Homo sapiens: one gene and its partner. The protein of the gene in region 2 interacts with the protein of the main gene of each other region in a biochemical or structural test. Each region holds a gene or a part of one and is shown on either strand. Other genes may lie near its edges. The genes, in order: PCK1 and INSIG1.

Region 1 (4,828 bases), on a different chromosome or scaffold from region 2:
TCTCCTCAGTCCAGTGTTTGGATTTTTAAACTCTGTTAGTCCAGAGTTGGCCAAGCCTTAGAAATATGGATCCTGTAAGAATTCTTCAACTTAATATTCAATCTGGATTGAAACTGGGCCATATGTTGCTGTTTGTTTACATACATACATTTGTTTAAATGGTATTGGTGGAAAATTGTGGAGGAAGCAAGAGTCGTAAACGTATCAAAGTTGCATATGATGCTTGGATGAAAAGAGATAAATGCATATTCTAGGGAGGGAAAAAAGATTTGAGAAGTTGGCATAGAAATTAGTCCGGCAATATATAAGAGTATATGTTCTGCTTTGCCTGGCACTCACTACTGCTTCTCTGGTTTAAAACTCTCCAGGTCATTTAAGGGCCATCAACCCAGAAAATGGCTTTTTCGGTGTCGCTCCTGGGACTTCAGTGAAGACCAACCCCAATGCCATCAAGACCATCCAGAAGAACACAATCTTTACCAATGTGGCCGAGACCAGCGACGGGGGCGTTTACTGGGAAGGCATTGATGAGCCGCTAGCTTCAGGTGTCACCATCACGTCCTGGAAGAATAAGGAGTGGAGCTCAGAGGATGGTGTGTCCCTGCCAGAGGCCTTGGTGTGCCGGGCTGCAGGGACTGCCTGTTTGAGCCAGGCACTCACGAGCCTTTCTCTGTCTTATAGGGGAACCTTGTGCCCACCCCAACTCGAGGTTCTGCACCCCTGCCAGCCAGTGCCCCATCATTGATGCTGCCTGGGAGTCTCCGGAAGGTGTTCCCATTGAAGGCATTATCTTTGGAGGCCGTAGACCTGCTGGTGAGGCTCTCCTTCATTTAGGCTGGGAACATGGGTGTGCTGGGTACCGAAGGGCATCTGTGAAATCTCTCCTTTTCCATGACCTTGTCAGAGGGTGCCCAGGGGCTTCCTTTCTTGAGCTTCCTTCCCAAAGATCCAGAATAATTGGCAAGTTCAAATGTAGAACCAACCCTTCTGGTCACCTGGAACCTTTCTGAATCCCTGATCTATTGTAGCTTGATCAAATTTTACTTTTTACTTTGTGGCCTCAGTCATGTAACTTTGAGTTAGCAGTTTTCTGCAATTTAGCTTGGTGAACGCAAAACTAGCTCGATTACAAAGTTATTGTCTTGCCGTGTCTTTCCGTGTTGTGAATAACACCACTGGTTGTGGAGTCTGAATTTCAAAGCCTCTGATGAACATTTCTCTTTTTTTTTCCTGCTAAAGGTGTCCCTCTAGTCTATGAAGCTCTCAGCTGGCAACATGGAGTCTTTGTGGGGGCGGCCATGAGATCAGAGGCCACAGCGGCTGCAGAACATAAAGGTAAATCAAAGTCCTGATCTGAAACCACAGAGAAGTGGGATTAGAGCACTCTTCGTCACTCTTATGTCTCTCTCCTTTTCTGTGTCTGTGTGTGGGGAGAGAGAGAGAGAGAAAGAGAGAGAGGAGAACAAAGCATGCTAATGTCAACAATCAATGGCGTCAGTCTTGCCTAGGAGAGCCTCATTTACTAATGAACTCCCTCTCTGTTTAACAGGCAAAATCATCATGCATGACCCCTTTGCCATGCGGCCCTTCTTTGGCTACAACTTCGGCAAATACCTGGCCCACTGGCTTAGCATGGCCCAGCACCCAGCAGCCAAACTGCCCAAGATCTTCCATGTCAACTGGTTCCGGAAGGACAAGGAAGGCAAATTCCTCTGGCCAGGCTTTGGAGAGAACTCCAGGGTGCTGGAGTGGATGTTCAACCGGATCGATGGAAAAGCCAGCACCAAGCTCACGCCCATAGGCTACATCCCCAAGGAGGATGCCCTGAACCTGAAAGGCCTGGGGCACATCAACATGATGGAGCTTTTCAGCATCTCCAAGGAATTCTGGGAGAAGGAGGTGGAAGACATCGAGAAGTATCTGGAGGATCAAGTCAATGCCGACCTCCCCTGTGAAATCGAGAGAGAGATCCTTGCCTTGAAGCAAAGAATAAGCCAGATGTAATCAGGGCCTGAGTGCTTTACCTTTAAAATCATTCCCTTTCCCATCCATAAGGTGCAGTAGGAGCAAGAGAGGGCAAGTGTTCCCAAATTGACGCCACCATAATAATCATCACCACACCGTGAGCAGATCTGAAAGGCACACTTTGATTTTTTTAAGGATAAGAACCACAGAACACTGGGTAGTAGCTAATGAAATTGAGAAGGGAAATCTTAGCATGCCTCCAAAAATTCACATCCAATGCATAGTTTGTTCAAATTTAAGGTTACTCAGGCATTGATCTTTTCAGTGTTTTTTCACTTTAGCTATGTGGATTAGCTAGAATGCACACCAAAAAAATACTTGAGCTGTATATATATATGTGTGTGTGTGTGTGTGTGTGTGTGTGTGTGTGTGCATGTATGTGCACATGTGTCTGTGTGGTATATTTGTGTATGTGTATTTGTATGTACTGTTATTGAAAATATATTTAATACCTTTGGAAAAATCTTGGGCAAGATGACCTACTAGTTTTCCTTGAAAAAAAGTTGCTTTGTTATTAATATTGTGCTTAAATTATTTTTATACACCATTGTTCCTTACCTTTACATAATTGCAATATTTCCCCCTTACTACTTCTTGGAAAAAAATTACAAAATGAAGTTTTATAGAAAAGATGGATTTGCTTTGCTTGGTTTTTCTTATTTGAGCTACCAAGAGGAGAGAACTCTGATTAAATATCTTGTGATTTAAATCCTGCCCCCTCCCCAAGAAGGTGGGGACGTTCAGAATCACACTTGAAGAGGGGGTGCATTGCCTGGTCCCAGGGAGAAGGAGGGAGCAGATGGGGAGGAATGAGGCAGGGAACCATGGTTGGGGTTTTCTGAATTTGCTGAAGCCACTAGTTGGCATCCTTTAACAATTCTACAAACCTTTAGATGGTGAGGCTTATGTGGCAGGACTGGGAGGGTTTAATGCATGCTTTTTGACAGTTTGGATCTGGAGGGGTCTCAGGCTTCCACAAAAATTACATTGTGGACAGTTTCATAGGATTTTGCCTTTTAACTCTTCAAAGCAACAGTTTTCTCAACTGTCATCCCCGCGGGGGAGCAGAGGAAGACAAGTGAGAAGGAAAAGGGGACAGGATCTGGGTTGAGCAAGCATTAATTGAGCGCCTTCTGTATCCCGGACATCATGCCAACACCATGGGCTGCCCGAGAAGAGAGGTGGGTGGTTTGGTCCCCAGCTCTGCCTTGAACCCTCACCTGCTCTCCTCTACTCCCAGTGTTTATTGGATATTCCAGAACAGTCCAAACGAACCATAAACTTTATATCACAGATTCAATCTGTGTAAATACTATTATCTTCAAGTTGTAGTTTCTTTCTTGGGCCCAGGCTGTGAAATTGGCTTCACCCCTACCACACCCCAGCGGGCAGGCTTGTTCTTATGTCACACTCCACCCCTCCAGTCTCCTCAACTGGAAAACTTGCCTCTTTTCCTCACTTCCTCTGCTCCTTACAATGGCTTCATATGGAAGGTGAAGCTGAGATCACCCCAATTTTACAGGTGAGGAAACTGAGGTCAAGCTAGGAGCGTCCAGCGGGGCTGAGAAATTGCCAGGATTTCCTTCCCCATTAAGGAGCTGAGAGTCTTAGCTCCAGACACGTTGGCTTGTTAGAATATCAAAACCACCGAAGGGGAAAAACCACTTACTGGAATTAAATGCTATCTGCTGTATTAGTTTAAATCAGTGGCGTTCAAACTTGTTTCTCCTTTTCACTGCGGAACACGTTCTTGACATGTACTTGACTCAGAGTCCCATGTCTAAAGGAGACAGAGCCCAAGGCAGCCCACCTGAAGCTGGGGAGGGAGTCCAAAGTGCAAGCCACCTGGTCTCCATTTCCCCGCCCCTTGGGGGCCTTTGGGCAGCTCCTTGGACCCCTGAAAGAGGCCACCAGGATAAACTTTGTTAAAATGCATGCCTTGTGCCCCACTGTCCTATTACGGGCTTTCAGTAGTCTCCACTCCCTCGGCAGGCAAAGACACTGGCCATCTCCAAATTCCCTCCCCTCCTGCACAGCATCAGCCACCTGGCAAGCAGTCTCACATAGGACCATTTGCCAGCAGGCCCTGCAAGCCTGGGGGACAGCCTAGAGGAGGTGACTTACATACACAGCATAAGAGTTTTCAGGAGACCAAAAAGATTCAATATATGTCATTAACTCCTGACTCAGTTTCCCCAAACCATGCCTCCTGAGTGCTCCCTCTGTCTCCAAATCCTGATTTTTGTGCGCGGACCCCTGTCTACAATAAACAGGATCCTATGACTTCTTTCTTCAATGTTCTCTTGTCGTGCCTTCAGATGATGCAAAGTATGTAAGCTAAGCCCACTTGCAGGAAGCTCACAGAAGGCAAGAGGCTCATCACTTGAAAATACGGTTGGAGTGAGATGGAAAGCCCAGAGTCTCCTGATTCCTGGTCTACCACTGGACCACATGACTCCAAAACCAACACTGTGACTGACGTCCTCTACTGGAGTCCAGTGTAAGAGCTGTCCCCTGACCTCCAGGAAGCTGTGTTGCAGTCTGGGTTAAAGACCAGAAAACAATAGTTACACAGCAAATGTTGAACCAGGACAACAAACCTGCCCTTATTCCCAGTCGAGTCACTTAGGGGGCACTGACAGGTAGGCAGGCGGGGTGGCTAGGTGGGGCCGGGGCACACTTGGGAGTCAGGAGTTACAGGGCTCTTTCTCTTCTCTCCCTCTCCCTGGGGACCCACCCTAACCTGGACACCCCCGGGCTGCTCACTCGGCCCTCTGGATGCCAACAGCATGCACCTTCCAGA
Region 2 (3,174 bases):
TGTCTACCTCTCAGAAGCTCTGTGAGGGTCAGATGAGGAAGAACATGTAGAAAGGATTTCCCAACTGTGAAGCTCTGTGTGAATTGAGGGCACACAGAGCTTCAGTATTACAAAGCATGACCTATTTCCAATGTCTGTTTCAACAAACTGCTGGTAAGGTGGGTTATAACACAGGCATCAGATACTAATAAAGGTTTGTGGCAGAAACCTCCCTTCAGATAAAGGTTCAATCCCTTAAATTGCAGTTAGAACTTTCAGGAACCTATCATACCCTAAGCATCACCATGCTTTGATAAAATTGGGTGTTTCCTTTATATAGATATTAATTTAGTTAAACTTTCACCAATATCTTACACTTATATAACAGGCTTTATATAAGGGCCTCAGCAGCGTAATTTCACCTGAGGCAGAGAATTATCCTAATTTTGCAGGTGAGAGCTGTGGCTCACGGGGCCAGAGCCATGAAGACGGTGCAGGGGAGCTGGGAGAGCTGGCCTCGGTCTCCAGTTCTCTGCACATGTCCCACCTCTCAATCTTGTTGCTTCAGTCAAAGAAAGTGTCAATCTTTCCCATGTTAGGACCTACTTAATTGGTAATTAAAATATTTATACATTTAGTGCTAATTTTCTCTTTCCTTTTTTTTTTCCTTTCTACACATAGGGTGTTCCTGAAAAGCCCCATAGTGATTGAGTCTTCAAAACCACCGATTCTGAGAGCAAGGAAGATTTTGGAAGAAAATCTGACTGTGGATTATGACAAAGATTATCTTTTTTCTTAAGTAATCTATTTAGATCGGGCTGACTGTACAAATGACTCCTGGAAAAAACTCTTCACCTAGTCTAGAATAGGGAGGTGGAGAATGATGACTTACCCTGAAGTCTTCCCTTGACTGCCCGCACTGGCGCCTGTCTGTGCCCTGGAGCATTCTGCCCAGGCTACGTGGGTTCAGGCAGGTGGCAGCTTCCCAAGTATTCGATTTCATTCATGTGATTAAAACAAGTTGCCATATTTCAAAGCCTTGAACTAAGACTCAATTACCAACCCGCAGTTTTGTGTCAGTGCCCAAAGGAGGTAGGTTGATGGTGCTTAACAAACATGAAGTATGGTGTAATAGGAATAATATTTATCCAAAAGATTTTTAAAAATAGGGCTGTGTTTAAAAAAAAAAACAAAACAAGAAAAGCAGCAGTGATTATAGAGAGGTCACACTCTAAGTGGGGTCGCGGCGTGGCCACGCTTCACGGTCACGCTCGTCCGTCCTGCAGTGGCGTGTTTACATGGTCACACGTGTGTGTATCACCAGTGGGTCAACTGCTTGTCATTCCTCCCGTGGCAGTTTGTGTAGACAATCTTACTGAGCAAAAGGCAATGAAAAGTCTTGGTTCCCACACTGCGATATATTGGAATTTTCACCTCAGTTTATGAAGTTTATTTCGAAATCCATAGTCATCTAAGAATGAATACCTGTCTGCCATGTATTTCAATCTTAGTGAGCCAAAATTGTTTGTTTGTTACTACAGAATAGAGATGACTGTTTTTTGCCACAGCCCTATGGAATTTGCAATCTGTGATTGCCTTGTAAAAAGGAGAGTGCATATGGCACTGCATTAAACGTGTGGTGTTTCTAGTCAATGATATTGGTGAGCACAATGTATTCATTTAATGGCATAGACCATACCAGACCTAATTTGCAAGTATTGGGTCTTAAACTTCAAGTGCAATGTATATGAAAACCAATCTGAGCCTTGTATCTCTTAAATATTTATTTTTTTTAACGTGTGAGATGTTCGAGAGAAGGTTCTCCATTCATTTCAGTGCTGCCTGGAGGAAACTCGGCAATGATTTCTTTCAGTTGTGAAGTTCCTTTCGTGTTACACCCTCCACTGAACCCTCAACCTTCGAAATACTCCAGTTTTGTGGGTTTGGTCATTTTTACTTATAAATTTACCTTTTTGTATTTTGCAATTTACATGTGTTTGGTTTGTTTTAAATTCTGTGAAAGTGGCTTGATTAAAAGACTCCTTTTAAATGGAAGCCACCAGTCAGCAGAATGGAAGCTTAGAGGAACTTGCCTGTGAGCGCTGGTCTTTGTGTTTGGTTTTGTGATGTAACGATCTTTGCTGGGGTTTTTTGCTTTGTTTTGAGGGAAATGTCTTGGAGTAAATTTTAAGTTCCTGGAGTTAATTTGTTTTACAGGAATTTTGTTTTTTAAAAAAATAGGATCATTCTGAACTTTGGAATGACCCCCTTATATATTTTCTGAAAATGAAAACAGTTACATGAAAAAAATTTCCAATGAAGATGTCAGCATTTTATGAAAAACCAGAAGTTATTAGATGAAAGCAGCGAGTGAATCTTTAAAACAGACTTGATCACGCACACACAATAAGTCTTTCTCTCCGAAACCGGAAGTAAATCTATATCTGTTAGAAATAATGTAGCCAAAAGAATGTAAATTTGAGGATTTTTTTGCCAATAGTTTATAGAAAATATATGAACCAAAGTGATTTGAGTTTGTAAAAATGTAAAATAGTATGAACAAAATTTGCACTCTACCAGATTTGAACATCTAGTGAGGTTCACATTCATACTAAGTTTTCAACATTGTGTTCTTTTTGCATTCATTTTTTACTTTTATTAAAGGTTCAAAACCAAGTGTTGTATTTATGTTTGCTTTTTAAAAAACAGTTGGGGTGGTGGTCTCTGTGTAGGATGTTAGAATTTGTAATGGAGAAATATTTTGCAGTTCTTCAAATTTTACTGAATTTTGACACAACCTCTTGGGAAGTATTTGAATCATCCTTCAATATACACAGGACATTGGTTCCAGGATACCCCACGTATGCGAAAATCTGCATACTCAAGTCTGGCACTTGGCCCTACGGAACCTGCGTACACTAAAAGTCAGCCCTCCGTATACGTGGGTTTCACATTCAGCAAATAAACCATGTTTGGTTGGAAAAGCTCCATGTATATAAGTGGACCCACAGGTTCAAACCCTGTGTTGTTTAAGGGTCAACAGTATGTGTTTTTCTTATGGTAGAAAGTTTTAAGTGCAGCACGAGCTGAATTGAACCTGCCACCTTACCCCTCCTCACCACAGGCACCCGGTTTTCAGGCAGGAGGAGCGGGCATGCCTGGCCTGTCACAGGGGCAGCTTCCCTGCTGCCAGCC

Evidence for each region.
Region 1: the proteins of INSIG1 (region 2) and PCK1 form a complex in vitro, tested with the Homo sapiens proteins (one study listed by BioGRID).

The regions. Positions count from the first base shown.
Region 1 is NC_000020.11:57,563,801-57,568,628, forward strand, and holds the end of PCK1 (phosphoenolpyruvate carboxykinase, cytosolic [GTP]), read left to right. Parts: intron 1-368; coding exon 369-593; intron 594-681; coding exon 682-813; intron 814-1,239; coding exon 1,240-1,335; intron 1,336-1,549; coding exon 1,550-2,004; 3' UTR 2,005-4,321; downstream 4,322-4,828. UniProt on the Homo sapiens protein: Cytosolic phosphoenolpyruvate carboxykinase that catalyzes the reversible decarboxylation and phosphorylation of oxaloacetate (OAA) and acts as the rate-limiting enzyme in gluconeogenesis.
Region 2 is NC_000007.14:155,307,581-155,310,754, forward strand, and holds the end of INSIG1 (insulin-induced gene 1 protein), read left to right. Parts: intron 1-660; coding exon 661-690; coding exon of another isoform or gene 691-778; 3' UTR 779-2,655; downstream 2,656-3,174. UniProt on the Homo sapiens protein: Oxysterol-binding protein that mediates feedback control of cholesterol synthesis by controlling both endoplasmic reticulum to Golgi transport of SCAP and degradation of HMGCR.